4 linked regions of the Homo sapiens genome follow. The protein of the gene in region 4 interacts with the protein of the main gene of each other region in a pairwise test. Each region holds a gene or a part of one and is shown on either strand. Other genes may lie near its edges.

The links.
Region 1: the proteins of ECM1 (region 4) and ITGB4 interact in binary tests that used the Homo sapiens proteins (3 or more experiments, as listed by UniProt).
Region 2: the proteins of ECM1 (region 4) and HOXC8 interact in binary tests that used the Homo sapiens proteins (3 or more experiments, as listed by UniProt).
Region 3: the proteins of ECM1 (region 4) and KLHL38 interact in binary tests that used the Homo sapiens proteins (3 or more experiments, as listed by UniProt).

What each region holds. Positions count from the first base shown.
Region 1 is NC_000017.11:75,716,723-75,724,478, reverse strand, and holds the start of ITGB4 (integrin beta-4 isoform 1 precursor), read right to left. Parts: upstream 3,021-7,756; 5' UTR 2,867-3,020; intron 2,201-2,866; exon of another isoform or gene 2,052-2,200; coding exon of another isoform or gene 1,957-2,051; intron 1-1,956. UniProt on the Homo sapiens protein: Integrin alpha-6/beta-4 is a receptor for laminin. Plays a critical structural role in the hemidesmosome of epithelial cells. Is required for the regulation of keratinocyte polarity and motility.
Region 2 is NC_000012.12:54,004,639-54,012,002, forward strand, and holds the start of HOXC8 (homeobox protein Hox-C8), read left to right. Parts: upstream 1-4,346; 5' UTR 4,347-4,646; coding exon 4,647-5,082; intron 5,083-6,450; coding exon 6,451-6,743; 3' UTR 6,744-7,364. UniProt on the Homo sapiens protein: Sequence-specific transcription factor which is part of a developmental regulatory system that provides cells with specific positional identities on the anterior-posterior axis.
Region 3 is NC_000008.11:123,650,785-123,657,825, reverse strand, and holds the start of KLHL38 (kelch-like protein 38), read left to right. Parts: upstream 1-4,024; 5' UTR 4,025-4,240; intron 4,241-4,414; exon of another isoform or gene 4,415-4,898; 5' UTR 4,899-4,899; coding exon 4,900-6,249; intron 6,250-7,041.
Region 4 is NC_000001.11:150,503,876-150,511,123, reverse strand, and holds the start of ECM1 (extracellular matrix protein 1 isoform 1 precursor), read right to left. Parts: upstream 3,016-7,248; 5' UTR 2,915-3,015; coding exon 2,845-2,914; intron 1,594-2,844; coding exon 1,543-1,593; intron 1,464-1,542; coding exon 1,362-1,463; intron 1,290-1,361; coding exon of another isoform or gene 1,203-1,289; coding exon 1,122-1,202; intron 1,023-1,121; coding exon 942-1,022; intron 249-941; coding exon 1-248. Other genes in the region: TARS2 (threonine--tRNA ligase, mitochondrial), read right to left, coding at 4,060-4,208, 5,419-5,533, 6,146-6,218, 6,391-6,492, 6,689-6,789. UniProt on the Homo sapiens protein: Involved in endochondral bone formation as negative regulator of bone mineralization. Stimulates the proliferation of endothelial cells and promotes angiogenesis. Inhibits MMP9 proteolytic activity.

The sequences.
Region 1 (7,756 bases), on a different chromosome or scaffold from region 4:
GGGAGGCCCCCTCCAGCCCTCAAGGACTCTGGTTTGCGAGTTTGTCCCAGTGCCAGGCCTCTCAGCACTGGGCTCCCTGAGGGCAGATGTGGGTTTATTCTTCTTTGCCTTTTAGCTCCCAGTGAGCCTGGGTCAGGCTTGGCCATGACAGGGTCATCCAATGAGGGTGCCTCCCTGAGAGGGGGCCGCAGCTCTGCCTCCTGCTCCTTCTGTCCTGGCCCACTTACCCTTTGGTGAGGGTGGCACAGCCGGGAGGAGAGGGGCCCCTCCCAATATCTGGGGCCTGGGGCTGGGCCACAGCTGCCCGCAGTGGCTTACTGCACCGGGTTGGGTTCTGCAGTGACTGCCCGGCCCATCAGGGTGGGGTCTGAATCATCTGCCCTCCCCTGTACCTCTGCCTGCCCCAGAGTTAAGTTTTCTGGGCCCCTGAGCTGTTCACCCTTTCACAAGTTAGCCCAGAGTGAGACATGCACACACACTGTGGCTCCCCTCAAGGCGTCCCCAGCGGCTGTGGGTTCAGTATTAAACCATCCTAAGTCCTCAGCGGCCTTCAGGGCAGGACTGGACATCCCTGAGGCCCTCTAAGAGATGCTCAGCCTGAAGCCTGGACAAGAAAAGAGGCTGGCGGCAGAGCCATCCAGGCCTGCAAGGCCGGGGCAAAGGTGAGCACCGCGCCTCTTTCTCTAGGGCCAGGTCTCCCAGGGGCCCAAGCCTCTGCCCTGCCCACGGGCCCTCCCCATTGAATCCTGTCTCAGCCCGGCTTCTGGGGCAGTGGCCACCCCAGGGTCTGGGGGCTGGGGTCCCCGAGGTGCTGGAGAAGCCCTTCTCAGGCCAAGGGCAGGAAGGCGTAGCCTGCTTCTAAGGCGTGCAGCCTGGAGGAGGCCACAGCAGCGCCAACACATGCAGGTCAGACCTGTTGTGGCACAGGGACTGGGAGGCAGCCCTGAGCCAGCAGGGAAAGGGTGGGGACAGCAGGGTTCCTAGAGGGAAATGACTTCCTTGCAGCCTCGGGGTGTAGCCGCCACACCCACATGCTACACAATACAGGCTGCAGGCTCAGGCCTCCCAGGCATCATTACACAGGCAGGTACAGGCCTGGAGAGCTGAGCCCAGCTCTTCCTCCCACTGTCCCTGGCCACAGCCCCTCAGGCAGTGCTGATTCCCACACTGTGACTGCCATATGAGCCCAGGGCTTCACGGAGGAGATTGCTCAGCACAGGAGCCCGGCGGGAGATGATTTCATTCTGCCCGTTTCCCAGATGAGAGACCAGGCACAGAAGGCTGTGGAACTTCCCCATCCCGCGGACAGCACTGGGAGGGCCAGGACAGGGCCCTGCTCTGCAGGCCCTGCCTTTAACCTCCATGGCAGCCTCCACGCAGAAGCTACAAAATGGCAGTTAGAGGGTTGGCGAGGCACCCAAGAGTGTTTGGCTTCATTTGTTTAGAAAGTTTTAAAAGTAGGAGCCAATGTTAGAAACAACGAGATTTCCCATAAAAGTTAGGAATTTGTGTTTATCATTAGATGTATCACGATGGGCTGGGCCCAGCGCTCAGGACACCTACTCTCCAGGCGGCCCGGACCCCACCAGGCTGCCCCGACTTTATGTACCAGCAGGTCCCTGGAGTGTGTGACTGCCACCCTGAATGCCATCACACTGCAGCACAGGCAGTTTCCCCCCCACAGGGACACACACACACACACACACACACACACACACACAGGCCATGCCCACCCACCCACAGGCTCAGAGCTCCCCTGGCCCCCATCCCAACCCCTGGGGACCCCTCTGGGCACACCTGCTCCTGTCCACTATCCTCTCCCGCTGTCACATCTCCTCCCCTCAGGGACCCAGGCCCTTCCTCGCCCCAGAGAGGCAGCTGGCCAGAAGTCTGGGGACCCCAGGCCCTTGGCTGTTCTGTCTCCCTGAGAAATCAGGGTCGAGTAGACAGACATACCTCCCCTCCTGTCCCTCCTGCTGTCCTTCCCTCAGCCCCCAGGATGGAGACTCCAAGCCTTCACTGCCAGCTCTGTTTCGGACAGCAACAACCATGCCACCTGTGCCTGGTCCTTGTCCTCAGGGTGTGGCAAGGCCATGGGGGCAGAGGAGAAGCCCTGTCCCTGCTCCTGGGAGTCACCAGGAGCCCCAGAGCCCCAGTCCCAGCCAGAGGGCCACCCCAGAGGCTGAGCCATGGGAAAGAGGGCGGATGCTGCAGGAGGTGGCAGTGTTGGGCACAGCCCTGGGGCTGGTGGGTGAGGCCTGTAGAGCTTCCTGAAGGAAGGCGCCTGGGGCTGACTTTGGGAGGAAGGCAGGCCTGTGCTTGGCCAAGAGAAAAGGAAAATCAGGGACTCCCCAGCCCCAGATGGACTGTGGCACCGCATAGAGCAAGCCCTGCCTGGAGCCGGGATGGCGTCTGCCTCTCAGGGTGGCTTTTAAAAGTAGGAGCCAATGTTAGAAAGAACGAAATTTCACATAAAAGTCAGGAATGTTGGTTTATCATTAGATGCGCCATGATGGGCTGGGCCCAGCACTCAGGCTGGTGTCTACTCCACCTTCTTTGCAAACCCTGGAGGGGCCCAGCCCCAGAGGGCTACCAGCCACTGGCCTCTGCCCACTTCTCCCGCAGGCGCACCCAAGGCGCTCCTCTGGCCTGGAGGTCTGATGGGCACCACCCTTCTCTAGCTGCCCTGCCCCTTGGCTGCCAGCTGCCCCCGGCGCACCCCGGGGAGGCTGGGCACCTGTCCTGCGCAGCGTGGACAGAGGGACCGGGGCCTGTCAGCCTTCAGGGAGGGGAAGGGGAGACAAAAGCCACCGGCCCTGCCCGACCAGCTCCCCTGCGCGGCTGCCCAGCTGGGGCGGGCACTCACCCTCTCCCGGCCAGCCTCGGCTGCTGCTGTGCGCCCGTCCTGGACCTACCTCGGGGCGGACTCGCTCCCTCCGCGCCTGGGCTGCCGCTAGGAGATGGGGCTGCAGCGCGCGGGCGAGCAGGGACTGTCCGAGGGCGGGCGCGGGGGTTGGGGGGGTGGGGACGAGGCGGGCAGCGCTTTATGGGGCGGGCGCGCAGGTAGGAAGGAGGCGCTGGTGAGTCAGACCGGCTGCATTCCTTCGCGCGGCGCGCACCTGTCGGGGCAGGAGCTGGGTGCCGCCGCCGGAGCCGGGTCCGCCCCCCGGAAAGGGCTGCGGCTCCCGCGGCGCCCGCCCAGCGCCCCGATCGGCTAGCGGCGGGGGCCGGGGGAGGAGCCACCGCTCTCCCTCTCCCTCCGGTCCGGCCCTGGGCGCGGGGCCTCCCCACCCCTCCAGGCTCCGGGCTCCAGGCTCGGGTGCGCGGACTGCCCCGGGCTGGAGGCGGCCTCTTAGCCCCCGTCCGCACGGGAACCCTCCCTGCCCCGACTCTGGGCCGCTAGCCAACGCCGGGCTGTGCTGCTGCTGCTGCCCCGACGGTCGTCAGCCGCGTACCCCCCTCCCCGCTCTCCGTGCCAGCGCGAGGCATGGGCCCAGGGAGTGCCCCCGGCCCGGTCGGGAGGCCTGACTCCCCGTCCCAGCTCTGCTCTGCAGTTCACGGGGTCCTCTCAGCCTCCAACCCCTAACCTCACGTTGTATCCAGAGGGAGAGCCGAGGAAGGGTCGGGTCCTCGGTGCACCCTTCAACAAGCTACTTAAATCTCCTTACAGTGTGAACAGTGATACCCTGGAGAGGTCAGTGCCGACCTGGCATGGATTGGCACTCGATGCCTTGTTACAGTTGTTCTTAACAAGCTGGTTACAGAGCTGGCCCCTCCCTCCCGTCAGTCCTCTGAGAGCAGTCTCTCCATTGCCACTGCTTACCACGGGTGTTCAGGTCAGAGAAGGGCTTCATTTTTCTTTTTCTTTTTGTTTTCTCTCTCTTTTTTTTTTTAGATGGAGTCTCACTCTGTCGCCGAGGCTGGAGTGCAGTGGTGCAATCTTGGCTCACTGCAACCTCTGCCTCCCGGGTTCAAGCGCTTCTCCTGCCTGTTTCCCGAGTAGCTGGGATTACAGGTGCCCGCCACCACGCCCGGCTAATTTTTGTATTTTTAGTACATCATGTTGGCCAGGCTGGTCTCGAACTCCTGACCTCAGGTGATCCACCCGTCTTGGCCTTCCAAAGTGCTGGGATTATAGGCGTGAACCACCATGCCCAGCCAGGGCTCCATTTTTCTCTAGGCTTACTGGCCAGCAATGCCAAACAACACCAGACTGCTGGCACAGCACTGTCCAAACCATGCGGTTTCAAGCCACCGTGCTTTTTCAACAGGCTGGTCCCTTCCCATGACATTGAGCCCAGTTTATCCTTCTTGTCCTTGAAGACGTTGCACCAACCACGTGCTAGAGAGCCTTCCTTGACCTCTCCACACCCCAAGTTGGTTTATGTGTCCCCATAACCCTTGGGCCATGGCTTTTACATGGCATTTGCCACATTGGTTTGAAATGATGTTTAGGAATCTCGCCACACTGTTGGACTGTGACTCCAAGGGCAGCTACTCTCTAGCACCTAGCACCATGCCTGGTGCATAGCAGGTGCTCAATAAAAGGGTGGTTGAGTGAATGGGATGGTCACACAGCCTCCCTGAGCCTCCATGCTGTCATCTGTAAACAGATTCCTCCACTGCTACCTCTCAGAGTGATTGCAGGGGTGCTGGTTGCAAATGTGTGAGTCGCCACCTTTCCTGGTCATCTGAGAGCTGTTCTGCACAGAGAAAGTGTTCAGAGAGGCTTGCTCCTGGATTTGGGAACAATGTGGAAGGAGTCCCAGTTTGGTTGAAGCACTCAGATCTGTGTGTGTCAGGCCAGCACAAGTGCCCTGTGGACCTGAGTCACTCCAGCAGGTACCTATCCACCCCAAAAAACAGAAACATGGAGCAGGAGCTCAGAGAACGGCCAAAAACAGCTTGCCTGAGGGGCCTGGGTCTGCCAGCAGCACCCATTAGAGAACTAGGGGGTCATATACACCCCACTGTGGGTGGGGGCTGAGGCTTCTTCCTAGAGAAGACCCAGGTCCAGAGCTGGCGATGCCCCAGGCCACTGGGCTCAGCAGCCCCTTCCTCTCTTCATTGCAAACCCTTCTGAAAATGACTAGGGGGCCTGGAGCCCTGTAGCAGCTGAGAGGCGAGATGTCAACCCAGGGAGGTCTCACTAAGTAAGATAAGCCATGAGCTTCCTTGGCTTCTCGGAGTCCTGGGGTTCATTACCTGGAGCCCGCATGTGGACTTGGCAGTGGGGAGTCCCTGAACCATCTCAGATCTTGTGCAAACTTTGAGGAGTATCTGATTTCAGAATGTGGGTTTGCTGGGAGGGGAGCCTTAGCTTACACTGGATTCCCAAATAGGTTACTGGCCCCAGAAGTTTAAATATTGCATGTGATTTTTTTTGTTGTTGTCATTGAGATGGAGTCTTACTCTATTGCCCAGGCTAGAGTGCAGTGGTGCGATCCTGGCTCACTGCAACCCCTGCCTCCTGGGTTCAAGCGATTCTCCTGCCTCAGCCTCCCGAGTAGCTGGGATCACAGGTGCACACCACCACGCCTAGCTAATTTTGTATTATTAGCAGAGTTGGGGTTTCACCATGTTGGCCACGCTGGTTTCAAATTCTTGATGTCAAGTGATCCACCCACCTCAGCCTCCCAAAGTGCTGGGATTACAGGCGTGAGCCACTGCTCCCAGCCTGCATGTGAATTTTATAAAACTAAAATAAACCCCACTATCTCTGCAGCCTTAGGGCCAGAGTGAGGTTGGCTCATAGGGGGCTTCCTAGGCTCTGCAAGAGAGGTGAGGCCCCTGGAACAGGACCGAGCCCAAGGACCTTGGATTGTTGCTCCTCCACTCCCCTGCACTCCTCATGTGGCCTCCAGTAGGTCAGACTTGTTCATTCATTAGTTCAATTATTTATTCATTTTATGAGCAGTTAATGAGCTCCTATGCCAAATGCTGGGGATACCAAGATGAACGAGAACTACGGCCTGCTTCCTTCACTCCCAGTTCAAACCAGGGGTCTCCAAAGTAGGCTGAGTATTCTCGAGGTAGGTGCTAGCTGAGACCCTATTCTTTTTTTTTTTTTTTCTTTTGAGATGGAGTCTCACTCTGTCGTCCAGGCTGGAGTGCAGTGGTGCAATCTCGGCTCACTGCAACTCTGCCTCCTGGGTTCAAGCGATTCTCCTGCCTCAGCCTCCTGAGTAGCTGGGATTACAGGCACGCACCACCATGCCCAGCTAATTTTTGTATTTTTAGTAGACATGGGGTTTCACCATGTTGACCAGGCTGGTCTTGAACTCCTGACTTCAGGTGATCCGTCTGCCTTGTCCTCCCAAAGTGTTGGGATTACAGGCGTGAGTCATTGCGCCCAGCCCTGAGCCCCTATTCTTATACTTGAGAATGTACATTACTTATTGGTAGATTGGCACCTGTTTTATAAAAGAACAAGTTAAAGAATAAATAGACAGGGGATGTGTGGTGGAAAGAGTCCAGTGACCTGTCTGGAGAGCCCGCATCAACCACATGTTCAGACTGGGGGCAGAGGCCTCTCCGGTGCAGAATCCTGGGGTTTGTTTTCTCCTCAGAGCCAAGGGGTTGCTCAATAGGCCCCCTCTTTTTTGAGACAGGGTCTTACTCTGCTGCCTAGGCTGGAGGGCAGTGCCACGATCGAGGCTCCCTGCAGCCTCAACCTCCTGGGCTCCAGTGATCCTCCCACCTCAGCTTCCTGAGTAGCTGAGACTACAGGTGTGTGCCACAAATCCTGGATAAGTTTTTAATTTTTATTTTGTAGAGACAGAGTTTCACCATGTTGCTCAGGTTGGTCTTGAACTCCTGGGCTCAAGCAATCCTCCCGTTTCAGCCTCCCAAAGTGCAAGGATTGCAGGCGTGAGCCACCATGCCCCAAAAAGTTGAAAGAATACAAAAATCACCCGTATTTTTACCAACTAGACTCAAGAATAATATTTTGCTGTATTTATTTATATATTTGTTAAACATTTGTATATTTTTAAATTTGAAGTTGCACTTATCCTGCCATTTCATCCTAAACACTCCAGCATGTATCTCTCAAGAACAGTCCCCCACGTAACCTCAATACCCCCCTTTATTTTTTTGAGACAGAATTTTGCTCTTGTTGCCCAGGCTGGAGTACAATGGTGCAATCTCGGCTCACTGCAGCCTCTGTCTTCTGGGTTCAAGCAATTCTACCTCAGCCTCCCGAGTAGCTGGGACTACAGGTGCATGCCACCACGCCCAGCTAAATTTTTGTATTTTTTGTAGAGACGGGGTTTCGCCGTGTTGGCCAGGCTGGTCTTGAACTCCTGACCTCAGGTGATCTGCCCGCCTTGGCCTCCCAAAATGCTGGGATTACAGGTGTGAGCCACTGAGCCCGGCCCCTTTTCACACCTAAGGAAATAATGTCTCCATTAAATGATGTGTGATTCAGTCCATATTCAAATTTTCTTAGTTGACTCCAAAATGTCTATTATAAAGGTTTCCTTTTGAATTTGAGTCCAATCCATGCCACCTATTGCATTTGATTGTTTTGTCTCTTTGTCATTCTAAAATAGAACCCTCACCATCCCATCCCCTGCCCTACATTACTTTTTTTTTTTTTTTGAGACAGAGTCTCGCTCTGTCGCCCAAGCTGTAGTGCAGTGGCACGATCTCAGCTCACTGCAAGCTCCGCCTCCCAGGTTCACCCCATTCTCCTGCCTCAGCCTCCGGAGTAGCTGGGACTACAGGCACCCGCCACCACCCCTGGCAAATTTTT
Region 2 (7,364 bases), on a different chromosome or scaffold from region 4:
TAAAACTCCAATGTCGGTGGCTGGAGGAGGGTAGGAAGGGGTGAAAATTTTGTTTCGATAATACTGGGGGGCAATCAAGTCGCAACAAGGGACTTCGCAGTCGCTGAAGCACCAGCTCCTCTTTCGAGCTTAGGAGACCGCCTCCCCAATTCCAGAAGCATTGTTTTCTTGGTCCATTTGAAAGGTGTTTTGCCTATAGTTTTTCTCCTTCCTCACACCTCTCTTTGGCCATTTTGCTGTTCTGGAACTCTGACTCCTGTTCCCCACCCAGTGGAGGCCAAGACACCCCTCTCTCCCCTGGTCGGGAGCGCTGGGATGCGGGCTTCTCTCCCAGACCGAGAGCGGCGTTTCCGGGCTTCCACCCCGCCCCTGCTCCCAGGCCCTGTCGCCTCCCCTCAGCGTCCATCAGCGCGGCCTGCTTCCTGCAGCCGGCCTGAGCGGCCTTACTGCGGGCAGGAAGGAGGGCCGCGGGCTTGGAGGACCCTGAGGAAAGCATGGGATGCAGAACAGGCCCACCCGGCCCGGCCCACTGTTCAATCCCAGCCCAGCCTGCAGGTCAGGATTGGAATCATTTTTTATTCGCTATCATTTACGAATTAACAACACAACACGCATCTGGGGAAAGAAATGAAAGCTGGGGGTAGAGAGGGGCTAGCAAACGCCCTCTTCCCCTAATCTTCCCCTCCCACCTCTCCTCTGCTCCTTTGTCAGAATCACAAAACCCTAAAGATTGTTCCACTTGAGAAGGCAGCGGATAGGTACATTTCCGCAGCCCCGAAATGCCACTTTTATGGCGCTGTTTGTCTCCCTGTTCTGGGTTCTCAATGGGGCCGAACAAAACAGCAGCGCGGAGCTGGCTAGACGTCTGGGCTTAATTGTTTTATGGTTTAAATAAGGTGGACACTTTCCTTTGAAATCGGATTATAGGAATGTTTTGTCTATGGCCCACGGAGAACAGGACCTCACTGGCTGAGAGGGAGAGGTGGAGAGCGCGCGCGCGAGAGGGATGGGCTACAAACCAGGGGTCAAACAGCCTGGAGAAGTCCGAGTCCCACCCCAAAGTCCTGCAGGCGGCGGCGGAATAGTCGGTGCGGGGCCAGCATCAGGGTAAGAGGAGGGAGGACTTTAGGGTGCGCGCCGCGGGCAAGCCGTCGTGGGAGCCTCGGAGCGTGCATCCGCGTTCGCGGAGATGTTCCAAGCCCAGAAATGCGCCTGAATGGGGGGAGATCGCGGCAGTTGCTTTGCTTAGAGTCTCTTAATTGGAGAAGGGAGGGTAACAAAAAGAGAAAACAGTGTGGAACCTTTCACAAGGTTTTATTTCAAGAACTTAGAAAACAAAAGAACAGCAGTCCTGGGGCAACTCCCAGGGAATCTCTCTCTTGAGCACCCATCTGGAGGTTCCTTCCTCCCACTTCCCACCTTTGGGGCAAGCCTGGGACCTCTTGTTAGCTTTTTCCCAGCCGGACTGCATTGGACCAAATGGACGCGAGGTGGCGCTGTTGCTCAATGTTAGAGGCGGCGGTGCCCCGGGCCGCCCTGGCCGCACTGACATTTGAGGCCCGGCCCGCAGCCGCTGCAAGAAGGCCCCGCGCCTCGGCCGGCCCGGCCCCACTGGCTCTGAGCAAATCAATCCTCTCACCTGCGAGGTGTAAATAATTCGCGAGTGGCAGCGGGAGATGGGCCCTCGATCTGGCAGCGGGCTCGGAAGGCTCAGGAGGGCAGGCATTAAAAATAATCGCTTTGTGGAGGAGATAAGTGCAAAGCAGGCAGCGCGTAATTAACACAAAAAGGCAGAATGACCCGGACAAACGAACATAAATCCGTGGTACCTATGAGGGCGGTGCAGGCCTCGGGGAGAGGGACAGAGACGGCCTCGGCGAGGATGGCTGCTTTCGGTTCCTTTATTTCCAGGCTCGGGGAGCGAAATAAACCAGATAACGTGTAAAAGAAAGCAAACAAACAAATGAAAGAACGGTGAGGGATCCCCAAAAGGGGAAACCAAGTCCGGCCAGGGGTTGCGGGACTGGTGGGCTCTCCGGGCAGGCGGCGGTGGCGGCACACTCGGGACAGTCGCATTCCAAGACACAAAGCCCCGGAAGAATAGCTCTCTGGCAGGGTTTTCGCTGGACCATAAAATGTCGAAATATCCCCCCACCCCACCCCCTAAATGATAAGGCGCAGGCCCCAGAGCGGATCCAGCCCTCTGGGCCTCCTTTTTCCAGGCTGGGAAGAGAAAGTATTTATGACAGTCTCCAGTGACCCAGATGCTGGGAGCCCAGAGTCCACTCTGTTCATCGCAGCACCCGAAGAGCAGGCTCAGAAAAGGCAGGGCTGGAGCCAAGGCTGAAGCGAGCTGTGGTACGGGTAGAGACGCCCTGTCCTGACCCCTACTGTTCTGGACCCTAGGGAGGCCTGCAGCCCTGGCACAGCCCTCTTCTGACCCTTCCCTCGTGCTGCTCCAATGCCAGAGTTCTGGGTGTCTAAGAGTTTGGGCAGCTCCTGAGATGGGGGTGGGATTCCCCAAATGCAGGGGATCCTGGAGGGAGCTCTTGCTGCCTGCACCAGTGAATCTCCTTTGGGAATTTGACAGAGAGTGGCCATTTCCCCAGCAATTACTTAGATAATAGGGGGACTGGGTTGGGTGGGAGGAGGTGTTCATTCTCTCTAAACCATCCTGCCCTGAACCGCCATTCCTTCTTCCATCTCCAGAGCTGGGCTCCGGATGGGGAAGGAAAAGGTCTGGTTGCCTAACCACCTCCTTCCTCATCCAACCCTGAAACCCCCAGGATGTGGAAGAAAAACAGGTAGCATTTTGCTTTCATAATGCAAAGACCTAAAGATGCATCTGTGTTTGTCAGGCATGTATGCATGTGTGCCTGGGTGTGCACATGTGCGTACAGTGTCTGTGAGGTGGCAGGGATGCTTCCAGGCATGTGTGTGCTAGTTTACACTGAGCATGGACTTGATGTGTCTCAGGGTGAAAAGTAGCACGTACAGTGTGTGTGTGTCCTGAGTGTGCTCTAGGATTTCCTGGGTGTAACAGCCTCACACCCTGGTGAGGGAGAGGACTGGAAAAATAATTCTTACTCATCTTTTTCATTCATATGCACACAGCATGCATGTATTCTCACCTTCTCCCTTTTTCTCTCTGTCTGTGTTAAGCCCAAATCACTGTACACACTTATGGCCAGAGAAGGGTGCTGATGGACTAAGGTTCTTTAATCCATTAGAATTAACTTGAACGTATTCAGTCTTGGGGATGGGGGAACCCTCCAGAGAAAGTGTGGATAAATATTTAAAGAGTGTCTGTTGATAGTTCCCATCCACATCCTGGCCTGGGCAGCCTGCCTGGGGAAGAGGGAGCTGCAGTGAAGCCAGGGGCCCCACCAGGCTGAGCTGGCATTTCCTATGGCATGGGGGTATGTGGGGACAAGTAAGAGGCCTGCTCCAGTCCCCTCCAACTCAGATGCAAATAGTCTCCTAAGAAGAAATGTCCTGAATCAGCCCAGCTAGAAACCAGGGACACACAGCTGCCCTTTCCTTTTAGTCTCCATAAGCAGCTTTGCTCTCAGAGCCCCTAGCCAAGCTTGTGGCCATTGCCTGGGTTTCCTGCTCCATGCAGGGGCTCGTGTCTGAAGGGGCAGTGTGGCCCTGACTGGGTATATGGAGTTTTCCCCAGCCCCACCTCCTCTGACCCTCTCCTCTACCCATAGCAGGTAGCAAGAGAGTCTCCTGGATCTAAGGAAGAAGACAGAACAGCTTCGGACCCTGGGGAGGGGCCAGGGGATGGAGGGTCTGATGCCTGAAGTATTTGGGAGTATGGTGTGCTTGTTCCTCCTCAAAGTCTCCAGACTTAGGGACCCCCTAGGAAGCCCATCTTTTGGGTTAGGGGCCCTGCTCTGGCTTGCAGGTATTCATCCCCTTGGAGGTCTTATACCTGTTGAGGTAACCTGGGTTGACCTGCTGGCTCAGGTATCTCTCTCTCTCTGAGAAGAAGGAAAAGAGAAGCGAGGCTGGGGGCGAGAGGCACCTTCACATCTAAATTCGTACCCTGGAAAACTGGCCCCAGCCATTAGCTGGGGCTGGCTCACCACCCCCCTACACACACCACACACCCCCATCCCTCCCCCTCTCCTCCCCTCCCCTTCCTCCAGGTCCCCCCAGCCCTGTACCCCTCAACCCCCGCCATCTCTCTCTCTCTCTCTCTCTCTCTCTCTCTCTCTCTCTCTCTCTCTCTCTCTCTCTCGCCTGTCTTCATGTCGTGGATTGATGAACGCGAATCGCGTGTAAGCGCCGCCACCGCCGGGAGTCTGAGGAATTCGCCTGGGCTGTTAGAGGAAAGAGCTAAGTGAGAGAGCGCGAGCTCTACCTACCGACAGTGAGGAGCGCCGCCGCCGCCGCCGCCGCCCGCTCGCCGCCCGCCGCCGCCGCCGCCCGCGCCCCAGCCCCGGGAGCTCTGCTGATCCGGCCGAGCTCAGCACCGAGGCGCCCCCCAACCTGCCCAGCCCCCAGCCCACCAGCCCAGCCCAGTCCCGGGGAGCCAGCTGGCCTGGGGTTCGGTCCCGGGGGGAGGGGAGTTTCGGGGGTACTGGGCGGGGTACTCGTGAGCCAGAGGGGAGGGGGCCGCGGGTTTTCATGTACCCAGCATGAGCTCCTACTTCGTCAACCCCCTGTTCTCCAAATACAAAGCCGGCGAGTCCCTGGAACCGGCCTATTACGACTGCCGGTTCCCTCAGAGCGTGGGCAGGAGCCATGCGCTGGTGTACGGGCCCGGCGGCTCGGCGCCCGGCTTCCAGCACGCTTCGCACCACGTTCAAGACTTCTTCCACCACGGCACCTCCGGCATCTCCAACTCAGGCTACCAGCAGAACCCGTGCTCGCTTAGCTGCCACGGAGACGCCTCCAAATTCTATGGCTACGAGGCGCTCCCCAGACAGTCCCTTTATGGGGCTCAGCAAGAGGCGAGCGTGGTGCAATATCCCGACTGTAAATCCTCCGCCAACACTAACAGTAGCGAAGGACAAGGCCACTTAAATCAAAACTCGTCTCCCAGCCTCATGTTTCCATGGATGAGACCCCACGGTGAGAAGCCTTTTCTCTTTCCCCCTTGGTCTCCCGCGCTCCAGGGTTTCCCCCCCTCCCTCGCCTCCTTTTTGTCTGCCCTCGCTTTTTCTCCTGGCTTTGGGGTCTCTCCCGCCCCACCCCCGTGCCTGTGCCTGGGTGGTTTTCTCGAAGTTGGGAAGGCTCCGCTGGGGCGGGGCAGGGAGGGGGTGCCTAGAACATTTAGGGGATTGGGGTGAAGGTGAGAGAAAGCTGGTGTGTGGCCGCAAAGGGTTAAAAATCGTTTTCTCCATCTCTGTCTGTCTGTCTCTCTCTGACTCTCCCACTCCCCATCTCTAAAGTCAAAGTTGGGGAGGTGGCTGGGAATGGTACCCTGAGTACCCTGAGACTGTCAGCCTTTGGAACAAACCAGTTTCTCCAGAGGCAGGGAGCCTGGAGTCCAGGACACTGGCCAGGCTGTCTTGGGGCAAAGGGAGACAGACCCCTGTTGCTCTGCCCTAGCCAGAGTGTGGTGAGACTCTAAGGACAGGCTCTCTGGCTCTCTAGGGCACCCATAACCTCCTCTCAGAGAACCAGCCTGAGGGCCACTACCCCAACTTTTTTATACTTCCCCCAGTTGGGAGAAGACGGGGGAGCCTGAGAGGAGGGGGAAAAAAGAGTGCTCAAAAGGAGAGAGGCCATAGAGATTAGGGGTTCCTGAGGTCCAGAAGACCCTAGCCGCCCCCCCAATCAAGGACTTGTGGGGTCTCCCTGAGACCTGCAGAGTAGCTTAGGTCATGAGCCCCTCCAAGGGTGGCCCCTCATGGCCCAATTTCGAAGTACAGGGGGAAGCGATAAAGCGACAAGTTCCGGCGGGGATGGCCCATGATTTATTTGCTGGTCTCCAGTTAGCAATCAGGCGGAGCGGTGACACATTCCAGCAGATCAATTATTTTTCTTATTGGAAAAGCATTAGGCAGAGAGAGACAAGGAGAGGGCAGTGGGCAGAGCCCCTCTTCTTTACCCCCAGCTTTTTTTCCTTTCTTTTGGAAACAGTCTGTCCCCAGCCTCGCTCACTAAATGCCCTGCTGCACTTGTAAACAAAGCTGCAAAGGCCAGTTCCTAGGATTACAGGCCTGGTGGGGGGGATTCTACAGGGCTCCCCAGCCCCTGAAAGGCCCCAGTTTCCAAACAGACCCTAGCCCCCACCCCCACCCCACCTCCCAAGGTGAAGCCAAACAAAAACAATCCCCCAACTTTTCTGCCCTTGTCTGCCTTCTGCTCTAGCCTTTTCCATAGAGGGGAGGCGAACTGAGGAGATCAGAGAGGGGAGTTTAGAGTAGGAAGAGTGGCAAAGGAAAACCAAGCCCCCATCCAAACGTAACCAGACTGGGGTTTTCTTCTGTCCAGCTCCGGGGAGGCGCAGTGGACGGCAAACTTACAGCCGGTATCAGACCTTGGAACTAGAAAAGGAGTTTCTCTTTAATCCTTATTTGACACGAAAACGTCGGATTGAAGTCTCTCATGCCCTGGGACTGACCGAGAGACAAGTGAAGATCTGGTTCCAGAACCGAAGGATGAAGTGGAAAAAGGAGAACAACAAGGATAAACTGCCGGGAGCCCGAGATGAGGAGAAGGTGGAGGAAGAAGGAAATGAGGAAGAGGAGAAAGAAGAGGAGGAAAAGGAAGAAAACAAGGACTAAGCAAAAAAGAAAGACCCCCCCCCCCTTAGCAACTCCCTTGAAGTTTCGTTTTATGGTAGCAGATAAATTGAGAAGTTTACGACTGTCATTTGCTTTTATAGAGAATAGAATGACACTCACAACTCTAACTACCTGTCAGATACTTGCAGCTCTGGTTTTATTACCTTTGGACTTCCCCCACTCTTTATTTGTTTGGGGGCTGGAGGGGGGAGACGGAGAAACAGTGAAAAGTTCGGACTCTCTGTCTCACTCCTTGCCCCACACACACTTGTCCCTGCCCCCACCCTTCTGAGTCCTTCCTGGATTTTAAGGTCTGAGACCTGGCCTCCGTGCTCCTCGGTCTGTCTCTCACCACACTCCCACCTCCCTGCTTCTCTGGTATTTATTTTAGAGGGGAGCCCCCTCGAAATGCAGAAAAGGACTTGTGGTTTTGTTTTTATGCTAAGGCTAGTGTACTAGATGTACTTTTTCTAAAAAGGAAAGGACAGAAAAAAATGAAGAAAGGAAAGGAAGACAAATGTAAAGAAATAAGGAAAAAAGCAAGGAATATCCCCTCCCCCTCCCCCTCCCCCTCCCCAGGGCTCCCTGCTTAGAAAAACCCCCTTGACTTTCTCTAGGAAC
Region 3 (7,041 bases), on a different chromosome or scaffold from region 4:
GCTGCTGACAGGAGCCAGCCTGCCCTTTCCTTGGGGACCCAGACCCCGCACACCCAGATAGGAAAGAAACCAAGGCCTCCTGAGTCAAAGTGCCCACCATGGCAATCCAAAACTCCAGGAGGGAAAATGAAGGCTTTCTGGATTGACTTACAAGGGCAAACTCATCAAGGGCACCTGCTGGGAGCTCGACTTAGGTTTCTTCTCTGCACTTGGCTTCAGGCGAGAGCCGTGAGGAAGCTCTGAAGAGCCCTCATCCCTCAGTCTCAGTTTCTCCCAGTCCCTGTTCTAGGCCACAGATTGCAGAGAACACCTCAGGGTACAAACCACAGGAAGGTGATCTAGAAGGGCCAGGTGAGGAAATAAGTGCAGAGAGGTTAATTGACTCATCCAAAGATGCACAGCTAGTCGATAGCAGAGCCCAGACTGAATGCCAGGACTCCTGGAGGCTAAGTAGATCATGAGGAACACAGCAATTGCTCAAGGAAAAGGAAAATGCTAGAATGCACAGGGGACCAATTGAGACACTGAAAACCAGGCACCAAGACCCATTGGAATCTAATGAGATTAATTTTAGAGTAATAATATCATACTGACCATACTTTACTATGAATATACACTGTGCCAGGCACTTTACTGCATACTGCACATACATTATTTCACTGTGACAAGGATGGTTATCCCCACTTAACAGATGGAGAAACTGAGGCTGGAGGAGTATAAATAACTTACCCAAGACCACATGAATACTGAGGGGAAATGCCAAGATTATCCCCAGCCCTTCTGCCCCCAAAGTTCAGGCCTTGACTTGTTATGATACTGACTTTCATCAAAAGGAGGGCCGTGATTCATGCCTGTAATCCCAGCACTTTGGGAGGCCAAGGTGGGTGAATCTCTTGGGCCCAGCAGTTCAAGACCAGCCTGGGCAACATAGCAAAACCCTGTCTCTACAAAAAACACAAAAAATAGATGGATGTGGTGGCTCATGCCTTTAGTCTCAGCTTCTCAGGAGGCTGAGGTGGGAGGATCACTCGAGCCTCGGAGTTGGAGGCTACAGTGAGCCATAATCATGCCACTGCACTCCAGCCTGGGCCACAGAGTGAGACCCTGTCTCAGAAGAAACAAAAAAAGGAGAAACAATGAGCTGAATGTCCTCATTGATGTCATTTCTTTTAGGTTGCCATATGTTCAGGCCCTAGACTAAGACATCTTCTAGATGAAAGTTAAGACAAAAAGTATAAACCTCCCTGAGAGAAGTCAACTCATGAATGGGCTGGTTGGGCTACATGTGGGTGGTAGAGATGCTTTTTGGGGTCAAGCTTGGGCTTATATGTGTGTGTTTGCCATGTTGAACACTAAGACTCTGTGTCTTGACATTTGACATCTGACCTAGAACCAGGATCCTCCTGGTAGGCCAGGCCAACAAAACAGGGCCTATTTTTTCTAAACATTAGAAACCAAAAGATTTAGTAAAGTTGGTCAGACATTGATGCTGCACACCAAGGTCTATCTGAACAATTGACAGAGCTGGATTCCAGAAAGTTTAATTAGTAAGGGGATGTAGGGGAAAATCCAACATCCTTCCCAGGGAACGGTGCTGTGTTAATTCACTCCTAGGATCCCCTACCTATTACCCTCAGAATAAATCCTTGGCTTGCTTGCTGCCTGGAAGAGAAATCATGCAGGTGTTTCAGAGCATTAAGGAAGTTATTTCTTCCTCATGTTCACTCCGAGGTCAAGGACAAGAATGCTAGCTTTGGCGTTGGGAGGACCTCAGTTCAGTTCCCAGCCTGAACTTAAGTCTTGCACTGCAGTATAAAACAAGTGTTTTACTTTTCACTTCATCACATTATTGGATTTGATTATGTGGATAATCAGGGCTGCTCCAGAGCATATTTGCAGGGCAGTCTACGCAGTAAGCCATACATGGCAGCTCTGCAAAACCGGCACAGCAGACAGTGGTGTGAAGTCCACCCAGCAAAGCTCCCTCTCTTTCCCCATTCCCCATTCTGTTCCAGCTCAATGCAGGAAGTGTATGAAATTCACCCCCTATAAGCCAGGCCCTGTGCTGGGTGCTAGGAGTAGAGCTACAATGAAGTCAAGATTCCTGCTGCCCAGAGACTTCCACTCTAATAAGAGAGACACAGGGAAGTAAACATAATCTCAGTGAGGTATGAGGCATGCCATTAGAGGCATGTAGAAGAATGGAAACTGCACAGAGGAGTGTGAAGTTAAGTGTCTTAGAGAGGGGTAAAAAGACTTGCAGAGAAGTGATACATAAACCAAGTTTTGGAAGACGAACAGAAACAGTGAAAATGATAGAGTGAGCAGAGGGGAAGAGCTCATAGAAAGGGATAGAGTACGAATCAGAGGATCCCTGGGCTCTTTCAGGAATGTGGCTACTCACTTATTATGTCACCAGCACAGCTCACCAACTCGGACATATGGAGGAACAGCTCCTCTCACCTGCTCCCTGCTTGTGCCTCCATGGGTCTCTGACCCCCTTAGCTTAGGCCTCCTGCTCCTAATTCTGGCCTCCAGGCCCATGGCCCCAGTAACATGTTTTGGATCCATTTCCCTGGCCTTGACCTTCTGGACTCTTTTGGGCATAATCCACTCTACGATCGGCAACTGTGAATGAGAAACCCTCTTCCTTCCACCCTGCCCTGTGGTGTCCCAAAGGCCAGGCCAGCCCAGCTTCCCCAACAGTGACCAGATGCATACAAGGATCTGTAAGTGTCTCATGGAGCTAGATTACCACACATGAGTGGCAGTAGACATGGTTCCAGAAGCAGACAGGACACCAGTCCGATTCTGGCTAAGGAGTCCTGCAGACATGGGGAGCCACTGAAGGGCCTGATGCTGGGGACTGGCAAATTCTGAGTTGCCTTCCCAGGGGCTGCTCCAGAGAAGACAGGGTGGATGTATTGGAGAGAGAAGTACTAGGAGCAAAGAAAAAAAAATGCATGGAAGACCATTGCACTAGTTGAGCAAGACGTTGAGTAGGAGACAAAGTCAGGCTTCCCTGCCTTTTGTGGCTAAGACAATCATGGACCTCCCTGAAGGCAGGGGCAGAACAGACCTGAGGTCCCCCTCACTCTCTCTCGTGATTCTGATTGTTATTGAAAGCTGCCTCCTACCACATCACTATCATCATTCCTCCCCCGATTCTCTACCTCCTGCTTCTTTTCCTCCTCCTCCTATTCCTCCTCCTCTTCTTCCTCCTCTCGTCTCTCTCCCTCCCTCTGTCCCTGCTTCTTCTTCCTCCTCATCCTCCTTCATCTTCTTTCTCTCTCTCCCTAAAGCAATATGCCTTGCCTCCTGCCTCTAGCTCAAGCTGCCAGACAAGACAAAATGGAAAAGTAAGACAGAAAAGGAAGTCTGAACTATAAAAAGCCAGCTGAAGAGCAATCAGCACGTGTCTGGGAGAGGCAGACGCGACAGGAGGAGCTCGGCCTTACCACTGTCAATCAGAGGTTCCTGAGTAAGGAGACCTGACAAAGGTTTGGGCCTTCAGGAGTCTGGAAACCCTGGGATGCTCAACAACAACAACAACAAAAAACAACAACTTTTGTCATGGATTTCATCACCTAGGATCCTGGAGGAGGAAATCACAGCTCTCCCCAGCGATCCCGCCAGGCAGATGGTGGGAAATAGAGATCCATTGAATAGCACCCACAGGCTCATGTTCCGGCTTCCCTTGTGACCACCTGCCACCTCCACTGTGGCCCAGAACCATCTTCAGTGACTCTCCACAGGTCACAGCAACCTGTTTACAGACGGCTAGAATTCCCAAGCACTTTTAGGACAGGGGACTCGGGATGGTTCCAAGCAGACAGCAAAGTCTTCTCTAAGAGAAGCCGCTCCTCCCGATCTATTTTTGCCGATGTAAACACTTGCCAAGGAAACGAGGCATGTGGGCATGCGCCGGCCCTGCAGGCCCTCGGGTTGCTGCAAAAGGCAACTGGAAAGTCACATGTCATAACAGTGGAAAGTACATATGCAACTATTCTTAGCCCTGGAATGTATACACTGTCTCCCTGCCCAGCAGTCCTTGCACAAAGCTCTAGAAAACTATGAAAGTGCCTTCAGCATAAACAAATCCAGAAATCTCCCAGGACAAATCATTTGCCAACTGAAAGAAAGGCCTGGGGTTTATGGTTTCCCTTGGAGCTAGAGGTAGAAACTCTCCGGGGGGATAAGTCAGACCAGGCACCAGTGGATGTCACCGCAGCAAAACAAGGTAAGTGTCCCTCATACTTATTTCTTCTGCAAGTAGAAAACCAGGTGTCATCCAATAAACCAGGGGATTGTTTGGTCTTTCCTTTTATTTATTCTATCTTTAAAACAAGACTCAATGAAGTCATATTTAAATATATGCATCAAAGGTCCATTTTCTTCCCTCATTTCTGTCCAGTGACCAGAGGGCCACACCTCCAGAATATCATCCTTGGGGAATGATTGACACCCAGAAAGAGAGGTTTAGACATCTGTTACTCAATAACAGATATGCCATCGATCTGGAAAAAGGCTCATGAACTTCTGCTGGTCAAATCCATGGACTGTTATCTTGCTTCAGACTAACATTTCAGCTTCTGATAACAGAGTAACTTCCAACAACTTTAGTTTGTTTGTTTGGTTGTTTCTCTCAGATTAGCTGAAGATACTATTTGCCTATTACTTTTGAAAATAACCATAACCCAAAAGGGCTCAGGTCTGAGATGTATGTGGCCTTCCTTTCCAATCTTCCCTACACAATATCCATGGTGACATCCGCAAACATCATGGGGAATGGAATAGGAGCACTGGTCTTGGAGTCCCCACAGCTGAACCCTCCAGCACATGCAGCTGAGAAAGGTTTGACTCTTGCTGACTCTGGGGGCTTCCTTCCCTCTTTGTAGGATGGACGAGGAGTCACTAGATGGGCTGCTCTTCAAAGACCACGACTTCTCTTCTGACTTGTTGAGGCAGCTCAACAGCTTAAGGCAAAGCAGGATCCTGACTGATGTGAGCATCTGTGCCGGTGCCCGGGAGATCCCCTGCCACCGCAACGTGCTGGCCTCCAGCAGCCCCTACTTCAGGGCTATGTTCTGCAGCAGCTTCCGGGAGAAGAGTGAAGCCAAAGTGCAGCTGAAAGGCATTGACCCCCCAACCCTGGACCAGATCGTCTCCTACGTGTATACGGGGGAGGCACATATTGCCACTGACAATGTCCTCCCCGTGATGGAGGCCGCCTCCATGCTACAGTTCCCCAAGCTGTTTGAGGCCTGCTCCTCGTACTTGCAGAGCCAGTTGGCCCCCAGCAACTGCCTGGGTATGATCAGACTCTCAGAAATCTTAAGCTGCGAGACCCTCAAGAAGAAAGCCAGGGAGGTGGCACTGACGTCCTTCCCAGAGGTGGCCGCATCGGCCGACCTGAAGGAGCTCTGTGCCTTGGAGTTGAGGGACTATCTCGGAGATGATGGGCTCTGTGGGGAGGAGGAAAAGGTGTTTGAGGCCCTCATGGTTTGGATCAAGCATGACCTCCAGGCCCGGAAGCGATACATGCAGGAACTGTTCAAGCAGGTCAGGCTGCAGTACATCCACCCAGCCTTCTTTCACCACTTCATCGCCAACGATGCCCTCCTGCAGTCCTCGCCTGCATGCCAGATCATCTTGGAGACCGCCAAGAGACAGATGTTCTCTTTGTGTGGCACCACCGTCCCAGACTGCAAACTCCTGTTGCATGTCCCTCCAAGAAACTCTTACCAAGATTTCCTCATCCTCTTGGGCGGAAGGAAGGACAGCCAGCAGACCACCAGGGACGTCCTACTGTACAGCAAACAGACCGGCCAATGGCAGAGCCTTGCCAAACTCCCGACACGGCTGTACAAGGCCTCTGCCATCACCTTGCACCGCAGCATCTATGTGCTGGGGGGCATGGCTGTCAGCTCAGGGAGGAGTCTGGTCAGTCACAATGTCTACATCTTCTCCCTGAAACTCAATCAGTGGAGGCTGGGGGAGCCCATGCTGGTGGCCCGCTACTCCCACAGAAGCACTGCCCATAAGAACTTCATCTTCTCCATCGGGGGGATTGGAGAAGGGCAGGAGCTCATGGGCTCCATGGAAAGGTATGACAGCATCTGCAATGTCTGGGAGAGTATGGCCAGCATGCCCGTGGGGGTGCTCCACCCCGCAGTCGCTGTGAAAGACCAAAGACTCTATCTCTTTGGAGGAGAGGACATCATGCAGAACCCTGTGCGCCTTATCCAGGTAAATGGCCGGTTCTTCCCATCACGTAACTGCATGAGTATGTGTGCTTGGACACACCCACACCTGCTTGCACACACATGCACATGTATACATACACACCAAAAAACACATATATGCACATAAATATATATATGCACACATATACACAAACACACATATGCATACATGCGTGCACACATATATGCAGAAATGTATATTCATGCATACATGCATACACATATGCACACATATATGCAGATGCCAACATGCATACGTGTGCACATGCATACACATATACAATTCATGCATGCATACACACATTTACATATATCTACACATGCATGCACACATTTATACATATGCACGAACACAAATACGTACATGCATACATGCACACACATGTGCACCCATGTACACACATACCAACACTTGTTATTTGCAAGGAAGGAAGAGAGGAAGGGAGGGAGGGAAGAAGGATTTTCAGCAAGATATTTTTCAATTTATGAATTTTTTTGTGCAAAAATAATACATAACAAAGGATATCAAATACCATCCCTATGCACAGAGTTTATCTTCATTTGATGAGAAAAATATATATCTAAAAATTCAAGTTATTATACAGCATATTGAAAGTCAGATAGTGAAGTCCCATAGGAATTTGGCAGGTGCTTCTAACTCAAGTCAGTAAGGCCTTAAAAGAAGATTCCCAAGCCTTGGTCCACACCTCTGTGACCAAATCCCCTGGAACCTGACCTCACATCACTGAATCAAAATATCTTTGTGTGAGATCCTAAAATGTATGGTTTACAAAAG
Region 4 (7,248 bases):
ATTGAGGGTCTCACCCTGGCGAGTGAGGTGGGAGTAGCTGGACTGTGGTAGGTTCCAGGGACCATATACCACATGCTGACGGTTAGGAAGGCAGATTTGGTTCAGATTGTCTGGAGAAGGCCGCCCAGGGGGGAAGCCATCCAGCCGGTGGCCCCAGCCCCCTTGGGACCGGTCCTGTTGGCAGTGCTGGGCTGCATTCCAGGACTCAGGTTCTGGATGGCTCTGGTCCCCAAATGGAGCTGGCGTTCCTGGAATGGGGAAAACAGTGGGAAGCGGGGACATGTGAAGGAACCCACAAAGGCTGGATGAGCTGGGAGGATTGAAAGAATCTGGGGTGGAGGAGAAAGGGTTGGGAGGATATAGTGGAAATGAGAAAGAACAATTTGTGGCTCTTCCTTTTAAAATAACTGAAAGGAAAAGAGAAGCGAGGTGTGAAAGGTGTCAGCTCACAGCCTGCCCCCACCTCCTCCTGCTTCTCAAGGCTCGGGCTTCCTGCTCCTCTCCCCAGGGTCCTGAGCACTAAGGCAGGAGGATGGACAGACCAAAGCTGTCACTCACCCTCTCTCGGCATGGAATGGATGATTATCTCCTCCTGATATGGAAGAGGTGGGTCTACTGGGTAGAAGGAGTAAGCAAAAGCCATGTTGGGATGGCCATCTCTAGCAGAGAAAGCCTGGCTAGTTTACATGCACAAAGAAGAACTCAGCAGAGAAGCAAGTGAAAATAGATGCTATTTTTGCACATCTAATCACATAACTTTCTAAAACAGGTATATCCTCAATTTTACAGATGAAGAAACAAAGGCTTGGAGAAGTATGTAACTTACCCAAGGTTATACAACTGGTGAGTGGCAGAGCCCACCGTCTTGTCTGCCCCGAAGCCCATGCTCTGGGGGAAGGCCATGAGGTAAAGGTGGGTAAAGAAGAGAGGGAGCTGCTTACCTTCCTTCTGTTCATTGGGGTGCTGGAGAGAGGGCAGCTCTTTTTGGAGGGGGACAGCTTCCTGAGGGAGAGGGGGACCCACTGCAAGATAGGGGTGAGGGCACCAAGGAGCAGGGATCAGCCTGGTGTCAACAGGATCCATAGTGGGATAGAGGTGAGGGAGGGTGGGCAAGCGCTCACCTTCCTTTTCAGCAGGGAGTTGGGCAGGTAGCAGCTTTTCCTGTTGGAGAGGGGTGGCCTCCTGAGAGGGAGGGGGCTGCACTATAGAAGGGGGAATGTGTGAGCAGCCCACCCTTTCTCCTAGCCAGGGCTGGGAGTGGGGGCGAGGGCCTCTTCCCTCCTTTCCACCTGAAAAGTGGGATATAGGCCAGATTAGAAACCTGGAGGGTCACTGAGGAGGGCATGGGATGGTGACCTTACCTTGACTCTGTCCCTCAAAGGGAGGGCCATGCTGAGAGGAGTCAGGGTGATCCATGGGGAGGCTTCGGGATAGGGGTGGGGAGGGGGGAGCTGCGTAGCCAACTAGAAGCAAGAGGGGAGACATCAGAGCCCACAGTGCCTCCTGGAGTCCCAATCCCATGCTGCTCCCCCAAACTCTTACCTTCTTGAAAGTGCTCTGGCCTCAGCTGCCTCTGTCCTGTAGCCGTGAAGCCTGGAGGGAAGAAGGGCAAGTCAGGGGCCACTGGGAGGGCCTTCCCTGGACTTCAGCAAGGGATGGGGAGGCTGTGGAGATCAAGAGTGTAGGACAGACAAGCAAGACACGAGATGCCCCTCTGTATTCACCTGCCCCGTGTCCCCTAATCCTCTCCCAGCCCCAACACACCTAGACATGACCAGCTGGGTTCTGAGAAAGCCTGTGGCGGTCTGATAGCTCCACCTCTACTGGCTCAGAGGTTGGGCCTAAAGGGAGTATGGCATACGGGATTGGGGAGGGAGGCCCTCATTTCCTCTGCCAGTCTTTCCCTCAGGGCTGTGGGTTGTCCTCCCCAGTCTCTGCTGGGATGCGTCTCTAGCTTTCAGAGGAAAAAGTCTGGACCTTGAGCTGGTTGGAGCCTACCCAATCCACCTCCTCCACCCACCCTCCTACTCCAGGCCCTTGAAACATCTTTAGGCCTTTGGTTAAGGAGGCTTCCTGAAGGTTGAGTGCTTCCCCTTCAGCCAGTCTCAGCTCCGCCTTAGTTTAGGTCTCAATTTAGGGCCTGGGGGACTGGGACAGGCACAGGGAAGGGTCACTTGTAGGTGATCTGCAGACACAAAAGACCAGGAGCTGGGAAGAATGATGGCATGGGGCTTCACAGAGAAGTGGACAGATTTGCTGACATCCTCAGCAGCTTCCTGCAGGAGTGCCCTGGGTGGTTTTTTTCCTTTTCTTTTCCTTTTTTTCTTAGTTTCCACCCATAGCATTGAGGGGTTCCTGTTTTGTTCAGGCATCAAAGCAGATAAAGAATGTGTTTGTGCTGGATGGAGGGTGGGTCTGTGGATGGACACCCCTCAACTCCTCTAATCAGACAGGGAGTCAGTCGAGGCTTGCTGGGCCAGCAATCCGGTTTTGAGCAGCCTGGGGGCCCCTTTTCCCTCCCTTGCCTCTCCCACCAGCCACCTCCCTACATCCTCATCAGCAGGAGACCCTCACTCTGTGAACCCACCCCCCACTCAGTTGTCTATTTGACTGGGATTCTGTGTTTCTTGGCAGCAGTTTCTAGGAACCCCTCTCCTTCTGTGCCCCTGCTCTCTGCCTCCTTGGTTAAAGGCTCCACTGGCCTAGGCCCACTTTGGGCCTGCTCAGAAAAGGAAAGCCAAACGGAGAATCACTCTGCTAGTGATGAGCCGTCTGGGATGCCTGGACCCAGACCCCTGCCATGCAAGCCCAGACCCCCTCCTAAGTGCTGATCCCCCAACTCACCTCCCTCAGAGGCAGCAGAAGCAACAGCCAAATAGGTCAAGACCAAGGCTGCTCTGGCTGTGGTCCCCATCCTGGGGCAACTGACCACTGGACACTCAGAGGTGGGTCCTCTCAGGCAAGTCTGGATGTGAAGGGCCGGCCACTGAAGCTTGTCTGGTGGCTGTTACGGTTGTGAGCTTCAGGACCAGCTCTTCTTTTATAATTGTCTGGTGTGATCTCCCGCCCTCCTCAGCTTCCTGCCATGACTCAGTCCCAGCTGCTCCTCCTCTGGAAGCCACTCCTCCCAAAGTCACCCTGAAGCCTCCTCAGAGGATTGAGAAGAATGGGACTGATTAGAGGAGAACATTCTTATGACCTTCAAGAGAAACTGATTCAGAGAATCCAGGAGCAAGAGGTGTTTGAGCCCCTAGTTTGTGCCTCAGTTTCTCCATCTACAGGCTGCCTTCTGTGGAGAGGGGATCTGCCAACTCATGAACTGGGGTTGGGGAAACAGGGCACAAAGGAGTTTACAGCGGGGAGCAGGAAACCTATCCAAGGGATCTCCCCTACCAGTGTGAGGTCTGGACTGTCCCTTTTCAATTTCCCTAACTCTCTGGGACAAAAAAGAGGGAGACAAAGTGGAACATCCTTTTATCCCACCTCTCCAGAGTCAGAGATGAAGACATATGACCAGCAGCTTCCAGTTTGTATTTATTTATTTATTTATTTATTTAGAGACAGAGTCTCGCTCTGTCGCCTAGGGGGGTGCAGTGGCGCAATCTCAGCTCACTGCAACCTCTACCTCCCGGGTTCAAGCGATTCTCCTGCCTCAGCCTCCTGAGTAGCTGGGATTACAGGCGTGTGCCACCATGCCCGGCTAATTTTTTGTATTTTTAGTAGAGACAGGGTTTCACCGTGTTAGCCAGGGTGGTCTTGATCTCCTGACCTCATGATCCGTCCGCCTCAGCCTCCCAGAGTGCTGGGATTACAGGCATGAGCCACTGCGCCTGGCCCAATTTATTTTTTTTTGTAGTTTCATTCTCCTCACATCCAAACAGCTACAGCTTCCCTCCTTTTGTGGGGTCCCCAAACCAAGTCTCTTTTCAGGAGAGCAGACATGTGCCTCCACACAGTTCTGAAGTTCTGGGGGCTCCACATTGTCAGCTGGGTTGGGGTCTCCCATGTGAGGGAGGCTGATGGCACTCGCAGGTTTTTGCCTCATCTATGTACAAAGGCTCAGAAAATTTCTTCGGCATTTGGGACCCTCGTGTTCTGTAGCTCCACCAGTCGCTGCACAGCCTCAGGCAAGTCCCACTCCCCAAGGCGACGATTATCTCGAGTCCGAATGTTCACTGTTCTCTTACTTTGCTCTTTCTGGCCAACCACTGCAGGTAGAGGAAGTTTGGGAACCTCAGGGCAAATTCACCCACATGGAACAGTTTCTTTTGCTCTGCAGAAACTTGAGAGACCTAAATCTTTAGGAAGGGTGGGAGCAGAGCCCAGATATGGTTCACAGAAAGGAAGTATTCAGCTGTGTCTGCTAATACTAAATGACCAGTCCTGCTCATCCTGAGGAGACAAGGAAGTGCTTCAGTCCCCGCAGGCCTTATCGCTTCTGGTCAAGAGCCCCAGGGTCAGAGACATAAGAGTCAAGCAGAGAAAGACAAACACTGAGAACCCCACAGAGAGAAACTGTGTGTGTGTGTGTGTGTGTGTGTGTGTGTGTCAGAGACATTAGAGTCAAGCAGAGAAAGACAAACAATGAGAACCCCACAGAGAGAAACTGTGTGTGTGTGTGTGTGTGTGTGTGTGTGCGCGCGCGTGTCTGAAGGGGGTATTAGAGCAAGTGGAAGGTGGCAGGAGTGGTGTGGCCTTCACACTGCCCCGCCTCCCCCCAACCACTCTGACCCTTAGAACAGTTTCCTCTCATCAGTCCCACTCTGGCTCTTGGTGTCTGTTAGGGCTGGATTCACAGAGTGAGGGGCCTCTGCTGAGGAGGATGTATGCAGGGGCTGACTGGGCGGTAAGGGAGGGAAAGGGGCCATGTACAAGTCCCTGGGATTGCAGCACAGCTTGCTCTGGGTGCTTGTAGGGAGAGTGGGGTGTGCAAAACTCAAGAATCAGGTAATCTGGCTGAGGAGTTTCTGCTCCTCACCTTTGAGATAGAGCCCTGAACCCTGGAAAATGAAAAAGGGAGCATGGCAGTGCCAGAATTTTCTCCCTAAGGCCTTTCTCCTCATCCCTTAGGGCTGATTCCATCTAGGTCTAAAATAAACAAGGGTAATTAACGCTGTATTAACCCTCCCGTCCCTTTCTCTCTGATGCTCCCTTGGTTAATTAACCTAACAGACACCAACAGCTAGAGTGGAGTTAAAAAGAGGAAAACTATTTTGAGTGTCAGAAGTGGTTATGGGGAGGGCAGGGCAATGTGAAGGAACACAGGGCCCAAATGAGTCAGGTGTCCTGAATCCTGGCTCCTACCTGCTCAGGTAATGAGCCCCAATTAACCCAAATATGCATTACCAGACTTGGTAAACTTAACAGCAAGAATGCAGACGGCAGGTGGGAGAACATTGGCTCTGAGGTTCAGCTTACCAAACTGAAAATTGTAGTGGGCAAGCTGGGCCCGGCGGATTCTCCGGCTGAGGGTCAGTCCAGAGTCTGCATCCAGGTCACTGACCAGTCCTGCAGCCCGCAGGCTCTGCTGTGCCTGCAACAGAGGTTTGGTGACAGGAAGTTAATTTACTGGAAAGTTAAGGAGCTAGAACAGTCTGATGCTCTTTTCCCTCAATGCCCCCATCTGTTCCTCCTTTCCCTGCCTCGGGGCTCTCCACTTCTTACCAGCAACCTCTCCTCATTTCATCTCCACATTGAGGCCTCCTCCCCATTCATCCCCAACCCCACAATCTTTCTGCCTCCTACTGGAGATGACCCCCCAGTTATTCCGTGGACTTTGCCTTCTAGCCACTGCTCTACCCAACCAGCTGTTTGACTCTGGTACCATCCATATCCTCAATTCTCTCTAGAAAGGAAAAATAAAACTGTGTACTCAATCCCAGTTTTGTGCCAAGTGCTCTTTTGGTGGCTTTCAACATTTGTTAATTTGTTTAATTTTCATACATCTCTACAAGGTAGGCATTAGTCACATTTTTTAGATACAGGATTTCCAGCATCTAGGACAGCAGCCACTCGAGCCCAGTCTTGTGGCTGTGAGGGCTGTGCTCCTTCCTCTACCACCCCTGCAGCCTCTTCCTGCCCACTGCAGGGCACCAGACTCTCTACTGGACCTGCTTCTGCCCCCTCCCTTACCTCAACTCCTTACCTCTTTGGCGTATTCCTCTTGCTCACTCCCCACAGGGATGACCACCACCTGGAACGGGGACAGCCACAGTGGCCTGGTAGGGAAAGAACAGGTGATGGCAAATTAGTCACTCTGGCTCTGGCCAGAAGTGTGCTTGTATGGAGCAGACTTGAGAAGGAAAGAGGCTGGCATATGAAGGGGGACAGGATCTGGAGCATAACTATCCGGTTTGGGGCCAGAACAGAAATCCAGGTCAGAGGTCTCACCATTTCCCCCCGCAGCTTTCTGCCAGCACTCCCAACAGTCTTTCCACAGAACCGAGCACTGCTCGGTGAATGAGGACTGGACGCTCCAGGGCACCCGCCTGCCTTGAAAGGAAAAAGGGGGGGGTGGATGGAATGGTGGAAGTATCACGAATTGTGTACCCAAGATCACCTTCCAGTTTTTAAGAAATATTCAGCTCTGGCAGGAGAGGGTGTGGAGGGTTTAGTTTTTAGGGCCAAAGGCAGAAGGACTTATTCCATGCACTGTCAAGGGAAAAGAGGATAGGGCAAGGTTTTATACCCCTTATACTGGAGGTCAAATCTCAGGGGCAGTTGGAAGTCAAGCTGAATTGTCCCACACTGATGTGGCCGGCCCAGGGCATCGTGGAGGTGCACGTCAATCTACAGGAAACAGATGGGAAGGCACGAGATAAGCCAGAAGCACTATCCAGAACCACTATCCTCCATTACCTGTGCCATCCCACCCTTTAACCTACCCTCATCCCGGGCTACTACCTTCATCATGTCACCTAGCTCTATCATACGCTACCCCTCCAGTTCACTCTACTCAACTCACTCTGGCAGTAGTTCTCAGCAGCTCTCTCCATCTAATAATGGTGTTATAATATTACCTGATGTCCACACCCTGGCCTCTCAATTCCTTGAGCTCCTCATCTCAGAGATCTTCACCACCACCCATCTATGGCTACACCCTTTATCCTGTCATCTCCCCCAATGGCTGTACCTCTGAAACTGTCCATCAGACACCCTACTCTGATTACTGTCTCTTGGTCAGCCAGCTCTGAGAATTATTCCTTTTTTTTTTTTTTTTTTGAGACAGAGTCTCACTCTGTCACCCTG